Linked DNA regions of Homo sapiens. The protein of the gene in region 2 purifies or fractionates together with the protein of the main gene of each other region. This does not show direct contact. Each region holds a gene or a part of one and is shown on either strand. Other genes may lie near its edges.

Region 1 (3,500 bases), on a different chromosome or scaffold from region 2:
CCAATGCAGAGAACCAGCACAAGATGCCCATGTGCACAGTGTGACGCAACCTGCATCACACTGGGTGGTGGGAAAGGTGACGCCACACACCCTCCCCAGGTTCTGCCTCATGGCCCCGTTGCTCTCTAAATGCCCAGCAACAGTGTAATCACCCATATTCCATGGAAGAGAGAAAGCACACCACCGTGGCACACGATGTGCCACTGCTCTCAAGGAATGGCCTCACATCGTGGCCCAGCTGGGAAGCCCCAGCAAGGACACAAGCCTTTATCTCATCTGAACCTGGGGAAAAGCAACCACTGGGAAGGAAGAGCTCAACAGGAGGCTGTCCAGACCTCTGAGATGAGACGGAGCCGTGGTGGGACTCCCAGGGCAGGGTGTGGGTGTGGGGCGTGGACCCCAACAGCAGCAGAGAGGTAGACTGCAATCCATACCCAAGACAGACACCAGAGGTGTTCTGACTTGCTTCTAAAATGAGAGCTGTGAGCCACTCACTGGCCTGAGATGAGCAAACCAGCCCAGCCATGGGCTGCGGTCTAAGCCTCCCCCAGTTGCAGGACCTGCATTTAACATGCTCATCTACGTGCACAGCCCACGAGATTGAGGCAGTGTTTAAAAGTCTCTTTGAATGAGTCTGCGACTCTTAATTTGAGTGTCTGGGTCAAGAGGATTAAAGAGCAAAAAAGAGAGAGAAGGTGGGACAGGCAATTCACACCTCCTTCCCTGCGCAAACATGGTGACGAAACAGACACAGCTCTTGGCTTTGGGGAAAAATATGCAAAAATCTAGGTACTGCCTTCTGAACTGAGCACACCTACTGCTTGGCTGTCCTGGTTTTCAAAGGCAAGCCTGGTCCACACTGAAGGCTGAAGTCAGGCTGATGCAGTCTCCTCTAAACTGGCCACCATTTAATGAGCATCTGTTTGGACTGAACACTGAAAAAGCCACGTTTAAAGACAAGGCCCAACATTAACCTTATTTCCTACATGCATGTTGGTCACAACTACTTCAACTTGGCCACTGGAACCATGTCATGCCACTCTAGAACACGTCCCAGAGCCAGTGTCCCCTCAGCACAGCAGAGAAGAGCCCTCAACACAGGCAGGACACACAGCACCCCAGGACAGACAAGAGCAGCCGCACTGCAGGCACTAAGGCCATTGCTGGTAGCCAGCACACAGGTGACCTGTGTAAACACGGCGAGCACATAAAACTTGTGACAGTCCCCCTCCCCCCCATTAGAGAACTGCGACAGCAGAGCCAGAGGTGGCTGTTGACCTGGCAGGCTGCAGGAAGAAGATGACAGTTAGCTCACCTCTGTGGCCAAGCTTCTCATTAAGTCTCTCCGAGAACCGCGCCATCAAGCAGGATATGGTTCATAAGCAGTGACAGCATCTGAGGGGCTTAACAGGAAGACTGATATTTCTCTCAAAGGGGTGGTTATTTTAGACGACTGAAGGGGATTTTAGAAACGTAATTAATTATATCCACCCTGAGATGACTTCCTGGGCATCCAGTGATCACTGTCACAGCCACCTGCAGCTCCCACGCCACACAGAAAACTCCACTTTCTCTTCACACTCAGGACAGAAAGAAATTGAGGAAAGCAGCTTGCAAATTCGTGGTGAATGTGAACATCGACGAAAAAGGCAGGTCAGATTTCCTTGATCACCAAGGACTGGGGCTGCCTTGTTCAAAGCCCAACTCAGGTCCCACACATCCTAGAAACAAGCACCTGCGGCCCAGCGGCTTCCCTCACATCAGCCTGTCAGAGCTGGCTCGAGCTCACTGGCTCACTGCAGCTCCAGAACTTCCCCGAGCCCCGCTCCCATGCTGCTCTATAGGTTCACACTGCACCCTGCAGGGCCAGAAAGGATGTCGCCAGCCCAATGTGGGAGATGATGGCCTGGCTTTACTAAAAAACTGTGTGATCAAAATCCCAACTATAGGAAAGACGTAACTGAGAACGACTGGGCCCCATGTTCTGGGAGGAGCCCCGCTAACCACAACCTCCTCTGCTCCTCGCCCGCACTCCCCTGAAGAGTGAGTTTTAACCTCCCGTTAAGATCATCACACAAAGAAAAGTGAGTCAGCTCCTCTTTGCCTTCTCTCCCCACTCCTTCATGATATAGGGCAGGGTATGACAGAGCCTGCCACTGTCACCAGGACTTTGCCACACCAGTCACCAGCATGGTGTTCATCGGGACCCTCACAGTGCCTGTGCCACCTGCAAGTTCAGGGGTCCTCAGGCCTATCCTTGCTTCCCCAGCACTTCAACTAGGGCCGAGGCCAGCTCCTAGGGCCCAGGACTAGCTCTGCCACTCTTGAGGACAGGTTAAAAACACCAAAGGTCACACTGGAGAGGAAGGCCCCATGCAGCTTTTCTGTCACCTTGGTGATGAGCCACCAGGCAGAACCCATTAAGTGCTAATATTGCTGTTTATGGGTATAAACTGCTTAGAAGCTACATTTTACAGAGTGTCTAATAGGCAATGAGGAGCAGCTGCAGGCATGGACATTAGTTTGGATTGCTGAGTTCATTAGTTTCTGGACCCTTCCCATGGCTTCCAAATGCCAAGCTCCTGCATAGAGCACGTCTCAGCAGTTTCTACAGAGCATGGCTCCTGGGAGCAAGAGGACACTGTCCCTGGCTGCCAGAGCAAGCAGCTTGATGCCAGAGGCAGAGAGACAAGAGATGCAACTGTGGGGAGCCTGCCAGCAGAAACTAACCAGACTGCTCGTCCCCGTGGACCAGCCTCTGCAGGCCAGAAGGAAAGATCAGTCAACCAAGCAGTGAGGAACCCAGCCTTTGGGGTAACAGGATGCGGACTCAGTCTCCAGGCCACCACAAGCCAGTGCGGCCAGCCAACCTCCCTCTGCCCATCTGAAGATGGTGACGCTCTGGCCAACCTCCTACAGTCAAGAAGTTCACAAAAGGAATGTCTATCATGGACCCGGCCCAGTGAAAGACTTAATGTCATTGTCATAATACTGGAAGACACTGGGCCTGGGAAACTAAGCTTACTTAGGTCTTGCTTTCAGCAGCCCACACTTTCTGGTCAAATCTTGTCACTTCAGTTTTGCTCTTGTTTTCTGAAGATGTGAAAAAATGGATGTGTCACTTTATCTGATCAGTGACTTCCATGGTAATCCTCTATCGGCTTCAAATTAGGTCATTTTCATGTAAAAGCCTGGTCTGGCAGCTTTAAGTACTATGTGAATAAAGAGAAACAAAGCCCCACCTGGGCTTGGTCAGATTCTGTCCACAAGAAGCCATATTTTGACTTCGAACCCTGTTTACTTGCCTGCATCTGTCTGATTGGGGTTTGGGCGAGTACAAGTAGCTGCCCTCCCAAGCTGCCCACAAAAGGGCATGGAAGCTCCCACAGCCATGCTCTGCCACCACCTAGACGGACTCTTAAGGAGATCATCTGACGGCGGCAGCCTGCGCTGCCTTACAGATATGGTGCCTTACAGATATGGTCCTAACCCACTTGGGT
Region 2 (3,500 bases):
GGGAGGGATGGAAGGAGTCAAAGGCCACTAATGGCCGTGTCAAGCAGTGCTGTTCAGTGTTCCCTTGCCCCTCCACCTGGGCAGGAAAGACAGCACAGCCGGACTGAAGCACATCTCAGGGCGATTATTTCTTGTAGAGAATTTGGTGTCATGAGGCTCTGATTCTGCGGGTAGCAGGGCCTTTGTCCCATTGTTTGTCTCCATTGATTGGCTCCTGATCATTGATCAGCTAATCCAAAAATCAGCTCTTCAGTCCCTGGTCCCAGCTCAGGGTAATGCCCTGGGGGTATCTGTTCCAGTGAGTTGCTGATTCAGGCCAACCACTTCCACACTGGACTAGCACCCTGTGAAGGCAGAGCTTCCAAGACACCAGCCCCACTGCCCTGTGAGAAGTATGGAAGGCCAGAGCGCAGGCTAAATTCCAAGAGGAGCTAGAAGCCCTCAGACTCTGGGCCTCCCAAATCTCTAGATGCCAGGGCCAGAGCTACCACTCTCAGGGCCCACGAAGGGCCTACACTGCGCCTGAGGGAGGGAGTACCACCTTGGGCTTAGACTGAAGGCCACATTAAATTACAATGAGGGCCCCCTTAATTTTAAGAGGAGCACCTCCTTCATTGTAGAACACCTCCTTAATTTAATGGCAAATATCTTCTTAGTCTTAGGGAGAACACCTCCTTAATGAATGAGCACCTCTGTAATTTTAGGAGGTGTGCCTCCCTAATTTTGAGCCCTGGTGTCCTTCTGGGCCCACTCTGCTCCTAGTTATCCGGGTGCCATAACTTCTTTGTGTTTAACAGAGAGCCCCGCCTAAATCTGAAACCTGGCAGAAACCTAAGGTCCAATTCCACAAAACAAGGAGTGGGCTGTCCTCATCCACAGGTTGAAGTGAGGCCTTTGAGAGGGCGGGGGCCCACCTGTGCAGTCTCCGGGAACAGACGCTCAGCAGACTGGAGAGGAGCTCCTTCTTACCTGTGACAATCCCATTCTTCATTCAAGCCCCCACTAAATTTCAGGCCACACTTCATGTTCACCTCCTGCCAATTCTGGAGAACAGTCCCCTGGAAAAAAAACTTTTGGGAAACTCCAGGCCCTGTGTGAAAACACTTTGGGGTCCTATATCTATGTCATGTGGAACTGTGATACCTTCCAAAAATATTTTGTTCCCAGTACAGTCCAGTTAGCACACCAGGCTAGGAGCTTCCACAGCCAGTCCCAACATGGCTCTCTGGGGTGAGTGTTGGATACGGTTCACAAAATTCCTGCAGCAAGGAATCTCACTTCTTGCTTTCTTTACTTTTTCTACTGGGAATGTTTGCAAAATGCAACTGTGGGAGGGACCTGCTTTGGATGATACAGGATTCTCCTCCACAGATCCTCTATGAAGTCTTAAGTTATAAAACCACCAATAGGATTCCATGACCCAGTGGAAGTCCCCAGACACCATCTGTATTCCTAGGAGCCTGAATCTCCAAGGCTATGGGGCAGGTGCTGCAGGACCCAGAAATGCTTACTCCTGAGGAGTCACAATATAATGTTTACTCTAAGGCGTCAGGCCAGACACAGAGACTTCTATGCCAAAAACCTCAGGTGGCTAGATGACTGAATTAGCTGCTTTTCCAGTTAACCTTGCATGGCTGCATAACAGCCCACTCTAAAACGTAGTGATGTAAGGCTACAATCATTTGATTATACTCAAAACTTTGTGATTCGGAAATTCTGGCAGAACTCAGTGGAGGCGGCTCACCTCTACTCCATGATAACTGGGGCCACAGATGGGGTCACAGGTAGGGTGGCTGGCATGGCTCACGTGGCTGAGGTGGCTCATCTGGTGCTTTGGTTCTGATTGTTGTCTGGGTCCATCACTTCCAGTCTATGTCACATCTGCTGGAGCTGGAATGTCAAAGATAACTTCTTCCATCATTTGTCCTGTGCAATGCTGAACCAGCTGGGGCTGTTGTGCCTCTCTCTCTCTCTCTTTTTCTCTCTCTCTCTCTCTCTCTCTTTCTCTTCCTTTCTCTCTTTCTCTCTCTCACTCTCATTTCTCCCTCTCACTCTTATTTCTCCCTCTCTCTTTTTACAAGTCTCTCTACAAGGCTGGCTTGGGCTTCCTCACAATATGTCGGTCTCACTCCTCAGGGATTAGCAGGTGTGTCTTCACAGCAAAACCATTCTTAGCCAATTTTCCTGAGAGATGGCAGCCAGCACATCGCTGAGAAAACTGGGAGACCTTAGAGTTGGCAGTTCCCACTTGGGAGATGTGCAGAGGAAACAAGACGTATGGAGAGGGCCTACTGTCTACATGGCGTGTGGTGGCACCTGAGTGAGGGGCAACAGGGCTGACATGCCCAGGAAGCTTCCAATCCCAGACACCTCCTGGCCAGCCCACACCTCTGCCCCCCTACTGCCCAGATAAAGTCCAAACATCAACATGCAATGGCAGGGCATGCCTTCTGCTTTATGCCTGGGAAGCCTCCTTCTCTGGGTCCCCAGACAGAACAGACCCTCCACTCTTCTGGGCCTCTATGCCAAGCGCCCTGCTGTGCCACTGGACAGTAAAGCCACCTGCACCACACCACCAGGAGCCACAGCCAGAACTGTGCTTCAAGCCCAAGTCAACAAAGAAACTAGCAGATACCCTGTGCTGGGAGAGGGAGTGGCCAGGAGCACCTGGAGCTGGTCTCTGTCCCTCAGCCACCACCAAATATCACTGAAGTCTCTCACCATCTGCACGGGGTCAGGGAGCTTTCTGAAATACCAATCTAAACACGAGTCCCTTCTGCTCACGCTGCAGAGCCCAATATTTAAGAACCCCACAGTCGCCTTGATCCACATGCACTGCCCATTGCCCCCGACTGTGCCCCTGCTTCTGCTGTTAGGGGCCCCCACACCCTGCAGTGCCTGGCCCCTCCATCTGCACAGGTCTATTCCTGCTGCTTTCCTAGTCCACTCTACCTTCATCGTTATTCATCTTCCCTGATAGTCCCACGAGTGGCCCCTCCTGTCTGGCCCCAGAGCTCCTGGGTGAGTCCCTCGTCCAGCTTGGGTTACTGCCCTCGCTGAATGCACTTTTCTCAGTCCACATCACATCTCTCCTGCTGGACTAAGCATACCACAGCCATGAGCCCAGTGCCTGGCCCAACCGGTAACCACAGAAGACCAGGTGGGCCTCGGAGAAGCGGCCAGGAGCCGCCCCCCAAGGAGGGTGGGCCTGCCGCTCCCAGCAGAGCTGCCTGAACATTGAGACCAGAGGCAAACAGAGCAGGGGACAGAGGAGGGACTCGGTGCGAGTCCGTGTTGTTTCAACCTGGCATGCTCTGCATCCAGGAACACGAACCCCAAAAGTGGGAGGACTGAGCAGAAAGCGGTGACCCGTTGGCCTGGATATCAAAGGGCTTTACAGCCTCCCATGAGCGCCCCACTGATCCTCTTCCGCCTTGGGTAAATTGAGGAGCCATACTCCTGGCTCCCCACACTCTCCTCCTCCCGCCAGGTGGCATTCC
Region 3 (3,500 bases), on a different chromosome or scaffold from region 2:
AGCACCCGCTGCTGAAAATCAACTGCTGCTGGAACGTAGAGGTCTGCTTTCATCCCCCGCCACTCAAGCCGCAGTTTCCAACGCGCTCACTCTAATTCTACCTGTGAAAGGGCCCCAGCCCCCCTTTTAGGGCACAAATCATGGGCTCTGAGTGAATCATGGGTCAAGGGCTAGTTGGCGTCTCTGCTCCCAGGTGGGCAGCTGAGGAAGGTGGAAGGTGGCTGGCAGCCCACACACTGAGCAGCCGCTTCGAGGTCCCCGCCCCCGTTAGCTGGTGACTGCGAAGGGACGGCTACTCACACTGCTTTGGTATCCGGAGGGCCTCACTGTCCAGCACCATCACCTGATGCAGGACGCCCCGGAACTGATAGAGCACTTTCAGGTTCTTCTCTTCCCCCACACACGGGTCATAAAAGCCAGGCAGCCCAGCCTGTAACAAACAAATTGCTACTCTCAATACTCCAGACGGTCTAAGACCAGCACTCCTCCTCACTACCACCGGAGGGGCAGTGTGCACAGGCTCTGACATTCCCTGGGGAGATGCAAACTTTGGGGCATGAAGAAAAAGAAACAAGAATTTGAAAAAGTTGCCAAGACTCGCTTCTTAATAAAGGCCCTATCCTCACACTAAGACAGGGCCACCAGATGACTTCTAGGGTGCCAGGAACTCTCTGGCCTGAGCTAACCTGCATTTTCATCCTTCTGTATGGTCCATGCCCCAGGCCCCAGAGGCAAGACTCACACATGTTACAAGTGACCTCATGATCTTTCTGGAATGAGGCAAAAATAAACAGAATCAAATGCCATGAAGGCAGGCGTGTGTTCTGTTTGCTGGTGTGACTGGCACACACCAGGGGCTCAGTAAATCCTTACTGAGTGGTGAAAGAAATGACTGAATGAAGAGAATAGCTCCAACGTGGGTACTACTCAGGAGCTGGGCAGCATCCCACACAGTAGATGCTGATGACGGCAAAGATCCCACTTTAAGGGGCCAGGCTGTCCTTGTCAGACTGAACCTATTCTTCACACCACTGTTTGTTTGTTTGTTTTGAGACAGGGTCTTGCTCTGTCACCCAGGCTGGAGTGCAGTGGCACAATCACAGCTCACTGTAGCCTCAACCTCCTGGGCTCAACCAATCCTTCCGCTTCAGCCTCCCGAACAGCTGGGACAACAGGTGTGTGTCACCATGCCCAGCTGATTTTTTCTCTTTTTTGTAGAGATAGGGTTTTGCCATGTTGCCTAGGCTGATCTTGAACTCCTGGGCTCAAGCAATCCGCCCACCTTGGCCTTCCAAAGTGCTAGGATTATAGGCCTGAGTCACCGCGCCCAGCCTGTTCAAATCTGTGAGCACATAGCATGTGGTGGCTGGTGCTGCTGTACCTTGGAGGCCTCCGTGAGGATGAGCTTCGAGTCCTTCACCAGGCACTGCAGGGGCACAGTCACGTCAATCACCTTCACCTTCTCGCTCTTCCTGCTCTTGTCATTGACAAACTTCCCGTACCAGGCATTGACGATGATGAGGCCTAAGGACAGACTCCGAGTAGAGGAAGGCCTCCTCCAGGCACCTCCTTGTGTGGCTTAGAGACCCCCAGCGCCCACCCTGGACCAAGAGAGGACACATGTTCTCACCCATTCTGGACTCTTCTGCCTCAATTATCCTTCGGACAGATTCCTGCATCAGCCGGACCTGCCAGAGAACAAGGATGACACAGTCAGGGCCCTGCCAGGCCTGTTCCACCTCTGGTGAGAGGGCCACAGGCAGGCAGTCTTGTCCACGTCAACATACTTGCTCAGGGCCTGGAAAGGAAGGGAGTGGGCACCCTGACAGCTCTGCTACCCGAGTGGCTCACTCTGAAACTCCTAGACCTAGGGCAGGCAGCTCTGGGTCAGAAGGTGAGAAGCACCTGAAACGGCATGACCCTCCGGTGGCCACCGGTGGGAGCTCCCTTTCTAGGGATCATTAATGCGTGGGTGGGATTTGTTGACCCAATAAAAAAACAATGCGTTGTCAGCTTTAAAAATAAAGAGATTTCACAGGAGAAGCTGGAATCCCAGCTCCTCTTGAGAAAGGACCTGTGTTCTCCTGTGGTGCCATTCTGCTGGGCATAGCTGTGCCGCCCCCTCAGACAGGCATGTGCTCGCCAGGCCGCGCACACGGCCCATGGCCACCTGGCAGTATGCTCGCCACATACCCAGGAAGCCTGCTCCCTCCTGCTCAGTAAAAGGCAGAACACTCAGAGGGAAGAAAAAGAGGCCAATACTCACCACTTTAAAAAAGCCCTTGTTAGGCCTTTGGAGGGTAATTATCTTCAGGGCAGGGACTGCAGAGCCCAGTGTCGCATCCCACAATAAAGACTAAGTGGAGAGCCAAGTTGTTGGAGAAGAGAAGTCTGACCTCTAAGGCCCTGAGACCAACATGTGGGGTGTGGAGTGTGTCCCCTACAGCCCTCGCTTGGGAACGGTGGGGCAGCACTCACAGCGGACTCCGCCTCTTGCTTCTTCTGCAGCACATCGGTGGCGGCGCTTTCCCTCTGCTTCTCCAATTCCCTTACGCGAGAGGAACACAAGCCCCACGTTAGCGCGGCGCTGCCCAGCTTCCAGCCAACACAGCCCCTCCCGTGCTGGACCCGAGCCCAGCAAACAGTCTGTGATCTTACTGGAGTTCAGTTGTAGAACTTTAAAAAATATTCCCACGACAGTCTCAGGCAAGTCTGTTAGTCACAGGCTGGCAGCTTTCATTTTATCCTTAGATGGCTCTGCCCCACCTCCTCACCAAGCTGACGGGACACCGACTGTCAGTCTCTTTGGAAAGAAGACCCCACCACAGGAGAATTTCAGGAGATCCCACCAACCTTGTGGGATTATTATTTTTTTAATTTTAATTTTAAGATAGAGATGGGGGTCTCACTATATTGCCCAGGCTAGTCTCGAACTCCTGGGCTCAAGTGATCCTACTGTCTCGGCCTCCCGAAGTGCTAGGGTTACAGGCGTGAGTTGTTAAATAACACTTTTGGTAGGAACAACTAATACCACTTTAGACACACAGATCCGCTTTCCTGTAACAAAGTATGGGCCTTGGGGTCAGCATATGCCTGTCCTCCCTTCTGAGAGAAGGCTGGGCCAGCACATGTCTTGTTCTAAGCCTCAAGCCTCCTAGGGAATTAGGATTCTGAGTCCAAAGGCCAGACGGGCCCAGAAGAGGAGATTCATTCCTTTATCTGAGATTCTCTAAGTGCAATGCTTTACTAAATGAGATATTATAAAGTAACAAATCTATACCAGCTCTCAGTTTTCTGTAGAGATGCTTGCACTAATAATTTAGGTTTCACGGCATGCCCCAATGGATTATCTAAGAAACTGCAAAAACGTTGTGTTTCTGTGACTTTCAAGACTCTAGTTAACGCAGGCCCCTCACATACGGATCCAGAACGCATTCCTCTTAAACTCAGCGCTGGGAAAGGAGAAAGGAAAACTTCTTCTTTCTTGAGGCCATGGTTTA
Region 4 (3,500 bases), on a different chromosome or scaffold from region 2:
ATCTACAGTGCACAGGTCTATGGACACTTAATTTATGTCAGCTGTGTATTTTTAATTAAAATGCTCCAAAAATAATGTCTTAATATGCTGTTCTTGACTTTAAAACTTTCAGACCACCTTGTATATATAACTGGGACTAAACGAGCTATCAGTAAGCATACATTTTTGGTTTCAAAACAGTAGTTAATTAAAATACTTTGAAGTTAGAACTTTTTTATTTTAGGTTCCTTAAGTATGATAAATCTAAAGCTCTTGATAACTCTGTAAGTAAGAGCGGTAACTATTATATTTTCAAGCCGTGGGAAATTACAGAGTCCCCAGAGAAATCCAGCAAGTTGGTACATAACAAGGAACGAAAGCAGGACTCCTAGTTGCAGTGTCTCATTTCGCTGCTGTGTGAGGAACTGTCTATAGGCTTCTATCTTTTTTCTTTGCCACTGAGTCAGTTTTACTTAAACTGTTGTGTGTGTGTCATTTTTATTACATTTGCCGTGCTTAAATGATCTCTATACCATCATTTACTTAGTAACGTATTTTTTTAAACCTTTCAACTTGTCCTAATTATTAGTATCTATAACACCTTTGTTGTCTTTCTTATATTTTTTCTAATTCACATTAAAACTAGTGTATAACTATTAAAATACAAAATGTTTGCACACCACCTAACACTTTGTGTAGCACTGGTGGCACACACCCCACACTGGGGGAAGTTGTGGACTACGTGAGCTTCAGTTCTTTCGCACAGTGTTGAATTCATGCTTGTGAACACCTACAGAGCTGGGAACTGAGGATGCGGCAGAAAATAAGCAGAAGTCTCTAGGCTGGTGTGGGAGAGTACACAGATCATGGCAGTACAAATGACTGCGATTTATGATGGGTGCCACAAAGGAAAAGTATAAGAGTTGCGAACCTATGGATATAAAAAACATGAAACAGGCCCAGTAGCTCCCGCCTGTAATCCCAGCACTTTGGGAGGCCAAGGTGGGTGGATTGCTTGAGCCAAGGAATCCGAGACCAGCCTGAGCAACATAGTTAGACCCCTGTCTCTAAAAAAAAAAAAAAAAAAAAAATACAAAAATTAGCCAGGCATGGTGGCATACTCCTGTAGTCCCAACTACTCAGGAGGGTAAGGTGGTAGGATCGCTTGAGCCCTGGAGGTTGAAGCTGCAGTGAGCCGTAATTGCACCACTGCCCTCCAGCCTGGCAGCCTGGGTGACAGAGCAGGATCCTGTCTGAAAAAAAAAAAAAAAAAAAAGAACAGGGGCTCTCAGGATATGTAATAGGAGTCTGATTTCTTTCTTTCTTTCCTTCTTTCTACAAATACTGAGCACCTGTGCACCAGGCACTATTCTAGGCCATTTGGTTATTAGCATACCCAAGGAAGTAATATTTCAACTGAATCCTATTGGTATGGCACCTAAACAACCTCCCCCCAACATTTTGTGTTCAAGAGCATTTTCATAAGCACTGTTGAAAGGAGACAAAGCAGTATGTGAGTCTGGTCTTTACTAAAAAGCAAATTTGAGTCACTTATAATGGATTCTTCATTACCAAATGATGGGAACCTAGTATTCAGGAAATAATGAGCTTACTTAAAAATGGTTAGGTCCCCACTTGTCTAGGCAAGTTAAAACTGCAGGCATTAGAGGTGTGTGAGCAAGAATCCTCTCTCCCCCTCAGGATGCCCAGGTTTCAGAGGAATCCATGCTTGCTTGGTTGTAGTTTCTAAGCACGATGTCCTGAAAGTCTGGCGTGAGACCCGAGGTGCTCGTGTCTTTTTACTTTAACTTCTGTGTGCTGGTGAGAGGAGAGAAGCAGCTGTTCTTCTCCAGGTGCTGCTAAGGCCTTAGTGGAAATAACGCCCATCAAGTTTTTATTAATGTTGAGCTGGCCACAGTCTAGGTCCTGGTGAGAGGCCTCTCTGCTGTGAGCCTTGGCTAGATGCGCTGAGGGGGCTCAGTGCATGTGTAGATGGATGTGTGTCTTGTTTATGCATGTAGATTTTGTTTTGTATTTATTCACATACATGGTGAGGAGATCGAGACCATCCTGGCCAACATGGTGAAACCCCATCTCTACTAAAAATTAGCTGGGTGTGGCGGCATGCGCCTGTAATCTCAGCTACTGGGGAGGCTGAGGCAGGAGAATTGCTTGAACCCGGGAAGCGGAGGTTGCAGTGAGCCGAGATTGCTCCACTGCACTCCAGCCTGGTGACAGAGCAAGGCTCCGTTTCAAAAAAAAAAAAAAAGTTAAACTTACACTTAACATATGACCCAGCAGTCCCACCCCTAAGTACATACCCAAGAGAAGTGAAAACTTACATTCACACAAACACTTGTACGCAAATGTTCACAGCAGCTTTATCCACTGTCCTCCCAAATTAGAAACCACCTGTCCTTCAACTGGTGAGTGAATAAACAAACTGGTGCATCCATACAATGGACCACCAATGGACGCAGCTATAAAAAGGAACAAATTATTAACACTAGGCCCTCACTTAATGTCATTGGTAGGTTCTTGAAGTGAAACAACACACACTGCAACTTGAAGTGAAACAACATACACTGAAGCCAGTTTTACCATAGGCTAATTGACATGAGTAAGAGTTAAGTTCCTACAGCATATTTCCGGTCCCCAAAACACCACCAGACTTTTAAATAAAGACCCAAAACAGGCCGGGTGCTGTGGCTCACGCCTGTAATCCCAGCACTTTGGGAAGCCGAGGCAGGCAGATCACCTGAGGTCAAGAGTTCGAGACCAGCCTGACCAACATGGAAACCCCGTCTCTACTACAAATATAAAAATTAGCTGGGCATGGTGGCAGGCGCTTGTAATCCCAGCTACTTGGGAGGTTGAGGCAGGAGAATCGCTTGAACCTGGGAGGCGGAGGTTGCAGTGAGCCGAGATTGTGCCACTGCACTCCAGCCTGGGCGACAGAGCGAGACTCCATCTCAAAAAAAAAAAAAAAAAAAAAAACCGAAACAAATGTGAGCTATACATTTATTTATTTATTTATTTATTTATTTTTTATTTTTTTTGAGACAGAGTCAGTCTGTCACCCAGGCTGGAGTGCAGTGGCGAGATCTCGGCACACTGCAAGCTCCGCCTCCTGGGTTCACACCATTCTCCTGCCTCAGCCTCCTGAGTAGCTGGAACTATAGGCACCCGCCACCACGCCCGGCTAATTTTTTGTATTTTTTTTAGTAGAGATAGGGTTTCACCATGTTAGCCAGGATGGTCTCGATCTCCTGACCTCATGATCCGCCTGCCTCGGCCTCCCAGAGTGCTAGGATTACAGGCGTGAGCCACCATGCCCAGCCAACATGAGCTATACATTTAAGAAAGATTAATAAAAGCAACATAATTATTTATCCAGTTTTTGGTGAATCCGTGCATGATGGTGGTCATAGTGGTGGCGGATTAAATCAAGAAGTATATGTTTACAAACAAAAATTATAAGGAGTACCTCCTACTACCATAAAGTTCAAAAACAAACAATA
Region 5 (3,500 bases), on a different chromosome or scaffold from region 2:
CATGACGGCTATGAAACTATTATGAAGACCGTAGGTAGTAATGGTGACCCTCTCTTTTAATAACGTGTGAGTGCCAGGTGTATACTGAGTTCTGTTCTAAGTGCTTTAAGTTTTTAACTCCTTTAACCCTCCCAGCTTCCACTGTGAAGTAAATACAAATACTGTTATTATCCTCATTTTACTTATGAGGAAACAGAAGCCCAAAGAAGGTACGGGGCATGGATTTGAACCTACGCAGTCTAGTTTCAGAGTCTGTGCTCTTAATTACTATGCTATAATGCCTGTTTTAATGTACTGTAAATTTAAAATATACTGTACTTGTGTGGCATTAAGTGTAAGGGATTATTTCAATGAGTATGCCTTGTATTACAAGTTATGTCCAAAGTTTCTGAATATCCATGCTGAATGTAACTTACGGTAGCTACTTAGGGTGAGTCTGTCTATAATGTGGGAGATTTAAATGAGACATCCTTTTTGCCTTTTCCCCTTTCATGTGTTATAATGATTGTTTTGATAGTCTTGCATGTTCCATTATATCATTTCAAAATTCAGTAAAATATATTACCAGGTTTATTGTTTGTGTTATAATCATACACATAATGAAATTTTATGATGTAGTGCTCAACCTGGACAGTGTGAATTACTGGGTTAACATACTTCTTAATGAGAGTAACTGCAGATTTAAACTTAGGTTTTTTTATTTTTTATTTTTATTTTTTAATAGAGACAGGGTCTCACTCTGTTGCCCAGACTGGATTGCAGTAGCCTGATCACAGCTCACTGTAACCTTGAATGCATGGACTCAAGTGATCCTCCCATCTCAAGCTTCCCAGAGTAGCTGGTACTACAGGCATGTGCCACCGCGTCTGGCTAATTTTTTTTTTTTTTTGTAGAGATATTGTTGTGTTGCCTGGGCTGGTCCCGAACTCCTGAGCTCAAGTGATTCTCCCTCTTCGACCTCCCAAAGTGCTGTGATTACAGGCGTGAGCCACTGCACGTGGCCCTAGGTTGTTTACATTTTTAACATGGTGATTCATTAAGACCAATTGATTAAATTAAAGGAAGAATTATGTTTGCTTTGTTCACTAAGAATGGGAAGGCAGTGGAGAAGCAGGATGGAAATAATCTAGAGGACTCCAAGGAGTGCCAGAGTGACCTTATTTTGTTGAATTTATTTATGGTAGTAATGAAACCTATATAATTTAGCTTCTCTTTCCTTCAGAGAAGAATATACTAGAAGTCGGAGTTACTCAAGATTGAGTCTTCTTTTGCTAGGCTACTTGATAAACAGTTCTTGTCTGTTGAGTAGGCTAATCTTCAGGGAACTGAGTATACAGTGGATATAATTGGATCCAGTGGATATAATTGGATATAATTTCTAAAGCCGTATTTATTTCTCTTTTTATCTATACTTTCTTTAACTGTAAAAAAATTTAGGAGTGTTACGTTCTCATTTTGAATGAGGAACTCTGAAATTGTATCTGATTTTCTCTTTTGTATTTGTACTTCAGACTAGTCAAATATGTATGCCTTTTGCATACATATTTACTTGGAGATGGGGAGATATTTATACTAGCTTCCTCTGGCTGCCATAACAAACTACTGCAGACATCGTGACTTAAAATGACAGGCATTTATTTCTCAGCGTTCTGGAGGCCAGAATTCTGAAATCATTATCAGTCAGCCAAGATCACGGTGTCAGAGGGCCACACCACCTCTGGAAGATCTAGGGGAGAATCTGCTCCTTGCCTCTTCTAGCTTCTGGTGGCTGATGGCATTCCTTGTTTTATGGCTACATCATTAATCTCTCCCTCTATGGTCACGTTATGGCCTTCCTTCTCCACTTCTGTCTGCAGTTAGATCTTTGTCTTAGGCTGGGTGTGGTGGCTCACGCCTGTAATCCCAGGACTCTGGGAGCCTGAAACCATCCTCTGGGAGGATTGCTTCATCCCAGAAGTTGAAGACCAGCCTGGGAACACAGGGAGGCCCTGACTCTATAAAAAAAAATTAAAAAGTTAGCCAGATGTGGTGGCATGTGCCTATAGTCCTAGCTACTTGGGAGGCTGCGGCAGGAGGATCACTTGAGCCTGGGAGGTTGAGGCTGCAGTGAGCTGTGATCATGCCACTCAACTCCAGCCTGGGTGACGGAGTGAGACCCTATATCAAAAAAAAAAAAAAAAAAAAAAAAAAAATTGGAAGTGCTCCCTACGCTTCTGTTTTCTGGAAGAGATTGTGTGAATTGATCTTAATTCTTTAAACATTGGTAGAATTCTTTAATGAAATGTTCTGGGCCAGATTTCTTTTTCGAAGGCTTTATTCAATTTCTTTAACAGTTATTAGGGCTATTCACATAATCCATTTAATTTTGGGTGAGTTGTGGTAGTTTGTGCTTTTGAGGAACTGATCCATTGACACACAAAGTGGGTGTCCTCATTACTACTGGGCAAGTGTGGGAGTGTCAGCCCCTCTTTAGGACTCTACTGACACCACTGGGAGGGGATGGCCTTCTTACCCCTGGGCGGAGGTGAAAGTTCTGACTCTCTGCTAGGCCTCCTCTGATACCACGCCAGTGGGGATGAGAAGGAGTGTCTCATTACTGCCAGGTGGGAGGAGGAATCCAGGCTCTCCAGGTGGTCTCCACAGATACTCCCTGGCAGGGGAAGGGGGTCTTATTACCACCTGGCAGGGAAGTCTAGACTTCTCCAATATCACCCCTGAAAGGATAAGGGGTAGAGACACCTGGGAGCCTGAACAACATTGCAGCCTTGTAAGGGTGGAAACTTAGGCTCCCTACATGGCTTTTGCTGTTGTGGGTGGGGGTGGGCCACGGTTTTTTTCTGTGATATTGGCTGGAGGGCATGTTGTTTATTGCTCATTTCTTTGGCTTAGGAGAGCAGGGGTTTGTTTTTTGTTTTTTTGTTTTTGTTTTTAAGCTGGTTGTCTGTGGTATACGATGAGGCAAAAAGAAAACCCAGGGAACTCACCACCATATTTTCCATGGGTCCCAAGGTCCCTACCTGGTTTGCCTTATCTGTATCTTCAGAGTCCAGAGTCTTCCCATATTTGTTTACCTATAATGGCCAGGATTTTTGGTTGTACTTAGCTAGAGCAGTAGGAAAAACTACATTTACTTGATCTTGCTGGAAGCGAAAGTTGGACAGGGATTACTTCTTTATGGAAGAAAATACAGGGTGGAAATTGAGATGCATGAATTAGCCAGTAAGACACTGAAGGAAGCTAGTTTTGGGTTAGTTACTTGGAAGTGACAGCTTAACTATGTCTTTATTTCTCCAGAGAGAATTCTGTGGGTCATTGCTCAGTAAAACCAAACTCTCTTTAGTTTTAGATTTCTTAAGAGGTTTGACAGTATAGTGAATTACTTTATTTCTGCATTGAGATATAAATTAATAATATAATTTCTGGCTTAGTACCTGGTAGAGAAAAATTTATCTTTGTGAAAGATTAGTTTTATGGAGGGGATTAACTCCAGTTTTCTTTAG
Region 6 (3,500 bases), on a different chromosome or scaffold from region 2:
GGGGTTTCACCATGTTGGTCAGGCTGGTCTCGAACTCCTGACCTTGTGATCCGCCTGCCTCAGCCTCCCAAAGTGCTGGGATTACAGGCGTGAGCCACCGCACCCAGCCAGCACCGGCTTATTAATGGTGAGATGTTAATGGGAAAACTGGGCCTGTGAGATATGGGAGCTTTTACTATTTTTACAATAATTCTGTAAATCTAAAACCATTCTAAAATTAAAAATTTATTTTTAAAATGCAATATATTTGTTTTCCTTTTAAAGCACTTCCCTCATTCTTACCCAACGGGACACACCTTCTCAAGTACTTAAGTAATTCTTTTTTTTTTTTTTTTTTGAGACTGAGTCTTGCTGTCACCCAGGCTGGAGTGCAGTGGCGCGATCTCAGCTCACTGCAACCTCTACCTCCCAGATTCAAGTGATTCTCCTACTTCAGCCTCCCGAGTAGCTGGGATTACAGGCGTCTGCCACCACACCTGGCTAATTTCTTATATTTTTAGTAGAGACAGGAGTTTCATGTCGGCCAGGCTGGTCTCGAACTCCTGACCTTTAATGATCCACCTACCTCAGCCTCCCAAAGTGCTAAGATTACAGGTGTGAACCACTGTGCCCGGCAAGTAATTCTTATGAACAAATTAGCCTTATAAAGTTGTCATAAACATTATGTGATGTGTGGCCAGGTTAGAGTCCTGTGTGACCCGGTCTGAGCTGGCCTCTGGGCAGCATGCCGTGTGGGGGCTGCCACAAGCTGATTCAGGGAGCACCGGCCTGGGGTGACGCACGCCTGTCGGGCGGAGGGCGGCCTGGGGTGACACGGATGGTGGCCTGGGATGACACGCGCCTGTCAGGCGGAGGGCGGCCTGGGGTGACACGCACCTGTCTGGTGGATGGCGGCCTGGGGTGACGCGCGCCTGTCGGGCGGATGGTGGCCTGGGGTGACGTGGATGGCGGCCTGGGGTGACGCAGATGGTGGCCTGGGGTGACGCGGATGGCGGCCTGGGGTGACGCAGATGGTGGCCTGGGGTGACGTGGATGGCGGCCTGGGGTGACGCGGATGGTGGCCTGGGGTGACGCGGATGGTGGCCTGGGGTGACGCGCACCTGTCTGGTGGATGGCGGCCTGGGGTGACGCGCACCTGTCGGGCAGATGGTGGCCTGGGGTGACGTGGATGGCGGCCTGGGGTGATGCAGATGGCGGCCTGGGGTGACGCGGATGGCGGCCTGGGGTGACGCGGATGGCGGCCTGGGGTGATGCGCGCCTGTCGGGCGGATGGTGGCCTGGGGTAACGCGGATGGCGGCCTGGGGTGACACAGATGGTAGCCTGGGGTGACGCGGATGGCGGCCTGGGGTGACGTGCGCCTGCACCGGGAGCAGCTTCCCTTGGCCAGTGCCCATGTTCCTCTTTTCATTTTTATCTTTTCTGGGGAGGGTAGGGGGACGTTTTACTGTCTTTCCACTGAATGTTATGACCCTCCCCACGCCCCTTGGAGGCACAGCTGAGGTGGGGCCTATGTCTGGCTCCAGGGGGCCCTGAAAGGTACTTTTTACACCTCCCACCCCTCAGCACTGAGAGACCTCGGGAGGGGTACCGGTGACAGGGACGCGGGCCCCACCTTGCTGAACCCAGCAGCGAGGGCATCTCTGCCTCTGTCCCTGGAGGCTGACAGCGGTAGTGTGGGAGCTGGGGCCTGGGTGGAGACCGGGTCAGAAACTCAGGTTTCGCCTGGGTGGGCCATGAATGTCCTGCCGAGGGTGAGACCCTCAGGGCTCTGGGTGGAGAGCAGCACCTGCCCAGAAGCAGTAGACCCTTGTCCCGGCTGCACCAGGGGCCAGCGACCTTGTGCCCTCCTCCATCCTGCAAGCCTCGGGCGGTGCTTGGCCTCACCTGCCTCTGTCTACTCAGGACTTTGAGGCCAGGCACTCCTGCAGGCAGAGAGGGGAATTTCTGAGACTGAAGTTGTTACTGGGTATTTTTTAACAGCGCTGTCTTAAAAAATAGATAGCGTGTCTCTGTGGCCCCGTCTATTCTTGCGGCCACACGAACGTGCGTGTGTGTGTGCAGCTTCCCTCACGGCAGCCAAAACCCAGAGGCCGCCCAGCGTGCGAACACGCCAAGGTGTGACTGTCGGCACGGCACTGCCGAGCCGTGGGAGGGACTGGGTGGTGCAGCGGCCAGTGGATCTCAGACCCTGAGCTGAGCACGACTGGAGAGGATGGGTGCATCCGAGCGTCTGCAGAGCACAGAGCGCGTCCGCAGAGCGGGTCCACACCTTGGGTGCAGCGAGCGGATGTGAGCAGTGTGCCTGTGACCAGGGCTGTCTGCACATCCGCCGGCCTAAGCTGCTGCTCACCGAAACCCACTGGGACTCTGGCTGAGGCCGGCCCCAAGGAGCTTTGCCGAGGAGGGAGCACCTTGCCCCTGCCCAGAGCGGTCCCTCGCATCCTCCTTCCCGTGAACCTGCATCTTTGGTTGCAGTTACAGCTCTCACGCTTCCATCTTATGAATCACAGGAGTCCCGTTGGTTTTGGATGAGTTGACACCAAAAAGACACAGGAGCTCTCTAGAGACACTTCCTGGGGGTCCTGCCGCGTTGGAGCAGGGAGGCAGTAGCTCCTGACGCCTTCCCTCCTACGTGGGCTTTGTGATCACTGATGGTCACATGCGGGGCATTCGGTGGCCTCTGTGTAGAGCCAGTGTCTTCCTGATGTGACACTGGGAACCACCAGCAGCCCAAGCACAGGGACCTTCTCCTGGCCACTGGGCGGGCTGCAAATGTGAGGGCGAATGTTGGGTGCAGGGTGGTGGAGGTAGCTGGGCCTTCCCTGCCGCGGAGGAGGCAAATGTGAGCGCGAATGTCCAGCCCAGGGTGGTGGAGGTAGCTGGGCCTTCCCTGCCGCGGAGGCGGCAAATGTGAGGGCGAATGTCCGGCCCAGGGTGGTGGAGGTAGCTGGGCTTTCCCCGCGGCGGAGTCGCCCAGCTCTGCCCGAGGCCCCTTCCTCCCGCCCCAGCATCAGGGGCTGTTCCACAATGGGTGTCTGGGGGTCCCTGCAGCCTCCCACCTCCCTCCTGGGAGAAGCCTGCACACACTGAGGGGCTGTTTGTTCTTTATTTGCAGAGGTATTGTGGCCAGTATTTTGGTTTTCTTATGTTTTGGAGTCACACAAGCTAAAGACGGGCCATTTTCCAGACCTCATCCAGGTAACTTGCCATTTCCTTTTCCGTGTGCCCCTGTGGCATTTCTGTTCTGAGCGGCCACTCTGTGTCTGTGCTGCTGGGTGTGAGTGTCCTGTCCTCCCCTCCGCCTGGCCCCTCCCCGAGGCCTCCGAGGCCACTTCCCACATGGACAAGGGCGTGGGGTTCTGAGCTGGCCGTGTGCTCCTCCTCCAACCACCGAGGGTCTCTCCAGGCCTTCTCTGGCCCTTTCACTCTTCCCTGTCCAGGGCTCTCCAGCCCTTCTCTTCCTGCTTCTGCCTCCTCTTTCCACAGACCAGAGTGGCCG
Region 7 (3,500 bases), on a different chromosome or scaffold from region 2:
CATGAACCAGGAGCTAGGGTGCCACCTAATCACCTGGGCCTCTAAGATTCGGTCTGGAACCAAGTCAGTGGCTCACTGGTGTCAGGTCAGGGTCAGCCAGGGGCCAAGGTATCCTGTGCAGATCTGCTGGTGAGCACTTAAGGGAGACTATGCCTCAGGTGAGGACAGGAGTGCCTCTTTAAACCAGCATGTGGCCAGGTGCAGTGGCTCATGCCTGTAATCCCAGCACTTTTGGAGGCCCAGGCAGGAGGATCGCTTGAGTTCAGGAGTTCTAGAGCAGCCTGGGCAACATGGCGAAACCTCATCTCTACAAAAGTTAGCCAAGCATGGTGGCATGTGCCTGTAGTCCCGGCAACTTGGAAGCCTGAGGTGGAGGCTCGCTTGAGCCTGGGAGGTTGAGGCTGCAGAGAGCCATGATGACACTACTGCATTCTAGCCTGGGTGCAGAGCGAGACCCTGTATCAAAAAAAAAAAAAAAAAAAGTAAAAAACTATGTTTCAGTTTTCATCATCAGTTTTTAGAACATTATTATTTACACATATTTTTATTTTTTGAGACAGGTCTTGCTCTGTCACCCAGGCTGGAGTACAGTGGTGTGATCATGGCTCACTTGACTTCCCAGGCTCAAGGGATCCTCCCACCTTAGCCTCCTGAGTAGCTGGGACTACAGGCATGCGCCACCACACCTGGCTAATTTTTTATTTTTTGTAGAGACAAGATTCCTATGTTTCCCAGGCTGGTCTCAAACTTCTGGGCTCAAGCGATCCTTCTGCCTCAGCTTCCCATAATGCTGAGATTACAGGCATGAGCCACTATGCCCGGCCAGAACATTTTTACAAAGTAGTTCAGAAATATGGCCAGGCACAGTGGCTCATGCCTGTAATCTCAGCATTTTGGGAAGTCATGGCAGGAAGATCGCTTGAGCCCAGGAATTTGACACCAGCCTGGGCAACATGGCAAAATCTCCATCTCTACAAAAATACAAAAATTAGCCAGCCATGGTGGCGAGTATCTGTGGTCCCACCTACTCTGCAGGCTGAGGTGGAAGGATCACTGGAACCCAGGAGTTCGAGGCTACAGTGAACTATAATTGTGCCACTGCACTCCAGCCTGAGCAACAGAGTAAGACCCTGTCTCTAAAAAAAATATTTTTAATAAATAGAAATACAAAAATGACAATTGACACCGCTGTAGTGCTGTTTATCAAACACTGTGGTAAGAGATTACCTACCTTAACTCATTCAATCTCACGGTCACACCCCGAGGGACTGAATGAGTTAAGGTAGGTAGTCTCTTACTACCGTGTTTGATAGATAAAAAGCATCCTAAATAAGAGGAAAGTCAGAAACAAAGAGGTTCTAACTTACTGGAGTTGGAAGTCTAGCTCAAGTCCACTCTCTTGGCTGCTGGGCTGTCCTGCTTTTCATAAGCTGTATGTACATTTTTGGGGCACTGAACATTTACATAGGATATGTTGCAGGGGAGGGTAAGCAAGAAGCAACGACGCCACCCTCTGCCTCCTCTCCTCCCATCACTCCGTTTCCTTTCTGACTCCTCATAGAGTAGTCCTCCACCCCCAGTTCTCATGGTTTACCCTGCTGCGTCCAGGGGGTTTCTCGTCAGGCCCTCCTGCTTAGCCACAGGAGAATTACCTGTGACCCTTGCTGGGCCCCCCACTCAAGGCTGATCACGGCCTTCCCTGGGATTTGATCAGAGCTGGGAAGAGACAAGACAAAACTGTGCATGTGAGCTCTGGGGCCTGCCCGCGTGTGAGAGCACCCAGGCACGTGAGAGCACCCGGGCAGCCAGCACTTGGGTCCCTCCTAGGTTTCGGCCATCCGGCTCTCCTCTTCATTCTTGAACTTCCCCACAATCCCTCTGGCAAATTCTCTTTTTGCTTTGCCCCAGTGTGAGTTTAGTTTCTGTTTCTTGCCACCAAAAGAATATAGAGCACGTGTCTGACTAGCTTTGGACTGTCCCTGCTGTGGTCGTAGTTGAAGTCCGCATCGATTGTTACCTGGAATAGTGTGGTGGGCTTGGTGGAGCCTGCTTTCCTCCAGTGTCCCCACTCCCTCCCGCCCAGCAGGACTGAGCCTTTTCAAAGGCAGGCACCCTTAATAGTCCTGCGTGTGGCAGGTGCTTGCGTGCACTGACTTGACCCCTCCCCAGCCAGTGAGGTTGTTAGACCCTCCACCTTCTGTCCCATCTCTATCTGCCTGTGGCCCTTCAGGCACTCTGCTCCCTCTGCCTCAAGCACTCCCTGGGAAACAGCCCATCAGATCTGGGAAGGGCCTCGGTCCCCTGCCCCAGCTTTTCTACAGGACTGTGTGAGTATTTCCAGGAGAGCTGTGCCTGGGTAGTGCCACCACACAGTCTTGGCAGGGCACAGCACCATAATAGCTGGCCCTCATTGACCTTGCCAATCAGGACAAGACCCTGCCTGAGTGACCTTGGTGAGCTCCCTCAGCTGTGAAGATAGGTGATGCTCACAGCTGATCCAGGTGAACAGGAACATCATGGGGTGTTCTGAGCATGATACTTAACACATCTGTCCACCTCGGCCCTCCTTTCTCTTTGCCCTGTGGATGTTTGTAGCACTGGGCGTGAGCCCGGCATTGGGCCCTAGCTCCCAGCTTCATGCTGGGCCACACAGCAGGGGCCAACACAGACCTGTGAAGGGTGTGAAGCAGCAAACAGCAACGCTGGGTGAATTTAAACTGAACGGCACTGAGGAAGAATGGCTGTCAAGGCTCTTTTCTCTTCCCTTAGAATGTGCAAAAGTCTTCTATGCTGCGGGTGCTAAACTGGTGCTCTGTGGCCGGAATGGTGGGGCCCTAGAAGAGCTCATCAGAGAACTCACCGCTTCTCATGCCACCAAGGTGAGCCAGGGGCGTGCTTTCCATGGGGAAGGAGTGCAGGCCGTCTTCTGTAGGCACTGAGGAGATAGTGGCCCACTCCTGGACTGCTGAGCTGTAGGACATCCATGCGTCACACTGTCCCAGGGAAGGCAGCAGGTCTCCATAGCGAACCGGGCCCACTGCATAGGGAGAGAGAACTGTCCAGTGGTTTACATCCTGATGCCCCTACTGGCTAGCACTGTGAGTTGAGAAAGTTCTCTTTTCTCCCTTTCCTTTTACCTGGCTAAGCTCTACTTACTGGGTGGGAGTGGGGGATGGTGATAACTTTAAAAGGTGTTTTTTTTTTTTTTTTTGGGACACGGAGTCTCGCTCTGTCACCCAGGCTGGAGTGCAATGGCCCAATCTCGGTTCACTGCAATCTCTGCCCCCTGGGTTCAAGCGATTCTTCCGCCTCAGCCTCCTGAGTAGCTGGGATTACAGGTGCACACCACCACACTCAGCTGATTTTTGTATTTTTTGTAGAGACGTGGTTTCACCATATTGACCAGGCTGGACTCCTGATCTCAGATGATCTGCCCGCCTCAGCCTCCCAAAGTGCTGGGATTACAGGCGTGAGCCACCAGTACAGCCCTTGTTTTATTT

The links.
Region 1: the proteins of TMEM72 (region 2) and SURF4 purify together in Homo sapiens (affinity purification with mass spectrometry; one large-scale study listed by BioGRID and IntAct). This does not show direct contact.
Region 3: the proteins of TMEM72 (region 2) and DNAJC11 purify together in Homo sapiens (affinity purification with mass spectrometry; one large-scale study listed by BioGRID and IntAct). This does not show direct contact.
Region 4: the proteins of TMEM72 (region 2) and KDELR2 purify together in Homo sapiens (affinity purification with mass spectrometry; one large-scale study listed by BioGRID and IntAct). This does not show direct contact.
Region 5: the proteins of TMEM72 (region 2) and LCLAT1 purify together in Homo sapiens (affinity purification with mass spectrometry; one large-scale study listed by BioGRID and IntAct). This does not show direct contact.
Region 6: the proteins of TMEM72 (region 2) and PTDSS2 purify together in Homo sapiens (affinity purification with mass spectrometry; one large-scale study listed by BioGRID and IntAct). This does not show direct contact.
Region 7: the proteins of TMEM72 (region 2) and DHRS7B purify together in Homo sapiens (affinity purification with mass spectrometry; one large-scale study listed by BioGRID and IntAct). This does not show direct contact.

Annotation. Positions count from the first base shown.
Region 1 is NC_000009.12:133,369,561-133,373,060, forward strand, and holds part of SURF4 (surfeit locus protein 4), read right to left. Parts: exon of another isoform or gene 1,362-3,500; coding exon of another isoform or gene 1,316-1,361; intron 1-1,315. UniProt on the Homo sapiens protein: Endoplasmic reticulum cargo receptor that mediates the export of lipoproteins by recruiting cargos into COPII vesicles to facilitate their secretion.
Region 2 is NC_000010.11:44,921,337-44,924,836, forward strand, and holds part of TMEM72 (transmembrane protein 72), read left to right. Parts: intron 1-1,744; exon of another isoform or gene 1,745-1,890; intron 1,891-3,500.
Region 3 is NC_000001.11:6,635,817-6,639,316, forward strand, and holds part of DNAJC11 (dnaJ homolog subfamily C member 11), read right to left. Parts: intron 2,549-3,500; coding exon 2,479-2,548; intron 1,689-2,478; coding exon 1,631-1,688; intron 1,525-1,630; coding exon 1,382-1,524; intron 431-1,381; coding exon 301-430; intron 1-300.
Region 4 is NC_000007.14:6,470,653-6,474,152, reverse strand, and holds part of KDELR2 (ER lumen protein-retaining receptor 2), read left to right. Parts: intron 1-3,500. UniProt on the Homo sapiens protein: Membrane receptor that binds the K-D-E-L sequence motif in the C-terminal part of endoplasmic reticulum resident proteins and maintains their localization in that compartment by participating to their vesicle-mediated recycling back from the Golgi.
Region 5 is NC_000002.12:30,453,746-30,457,245, forward strand, and holds part of LCLAT1 (lysocardiolipin acyltransferase 1), read left to right. Parts: intron 1-3,500. UniProt on the Homo sapiens protein: Exhibits acyl-CoA:lysocardiolipin acyltransferase (ALCAT) activity; catalyzes the reacylation of lyso-cardiolipin to cardiolipin (CL), a key step in CL remodeling.
Region 6 is NC_000011.10:470,779-474,278, forward strand, and holds part of PTDSS2 (phosphatidylserine synthase 2), read left to right. Parts: intron 1-3,116; coding exon 3,117-3,199; intron 3,200-3,500. UniProt on the Homo sapiens protein: Catalyzes a base-exchange reaction in which the polar head group of phosphatidylethanolamine (PE) or phosphatidylcholine (PC) is replaced by L-serine. Catalyzes the conversion of phosphatatidylethanolamine and does not act on phosphatidylcholine.
Region 7 is NC_000017.11:21,175,464-21,178,963, forward strand, and holds part of DHRS7B (dehydrogenase/reductase SDR family member 7B), read left to right. Parts: intron 1-2,769; coding exon 2,770-2,879; intron 2,880-3,500.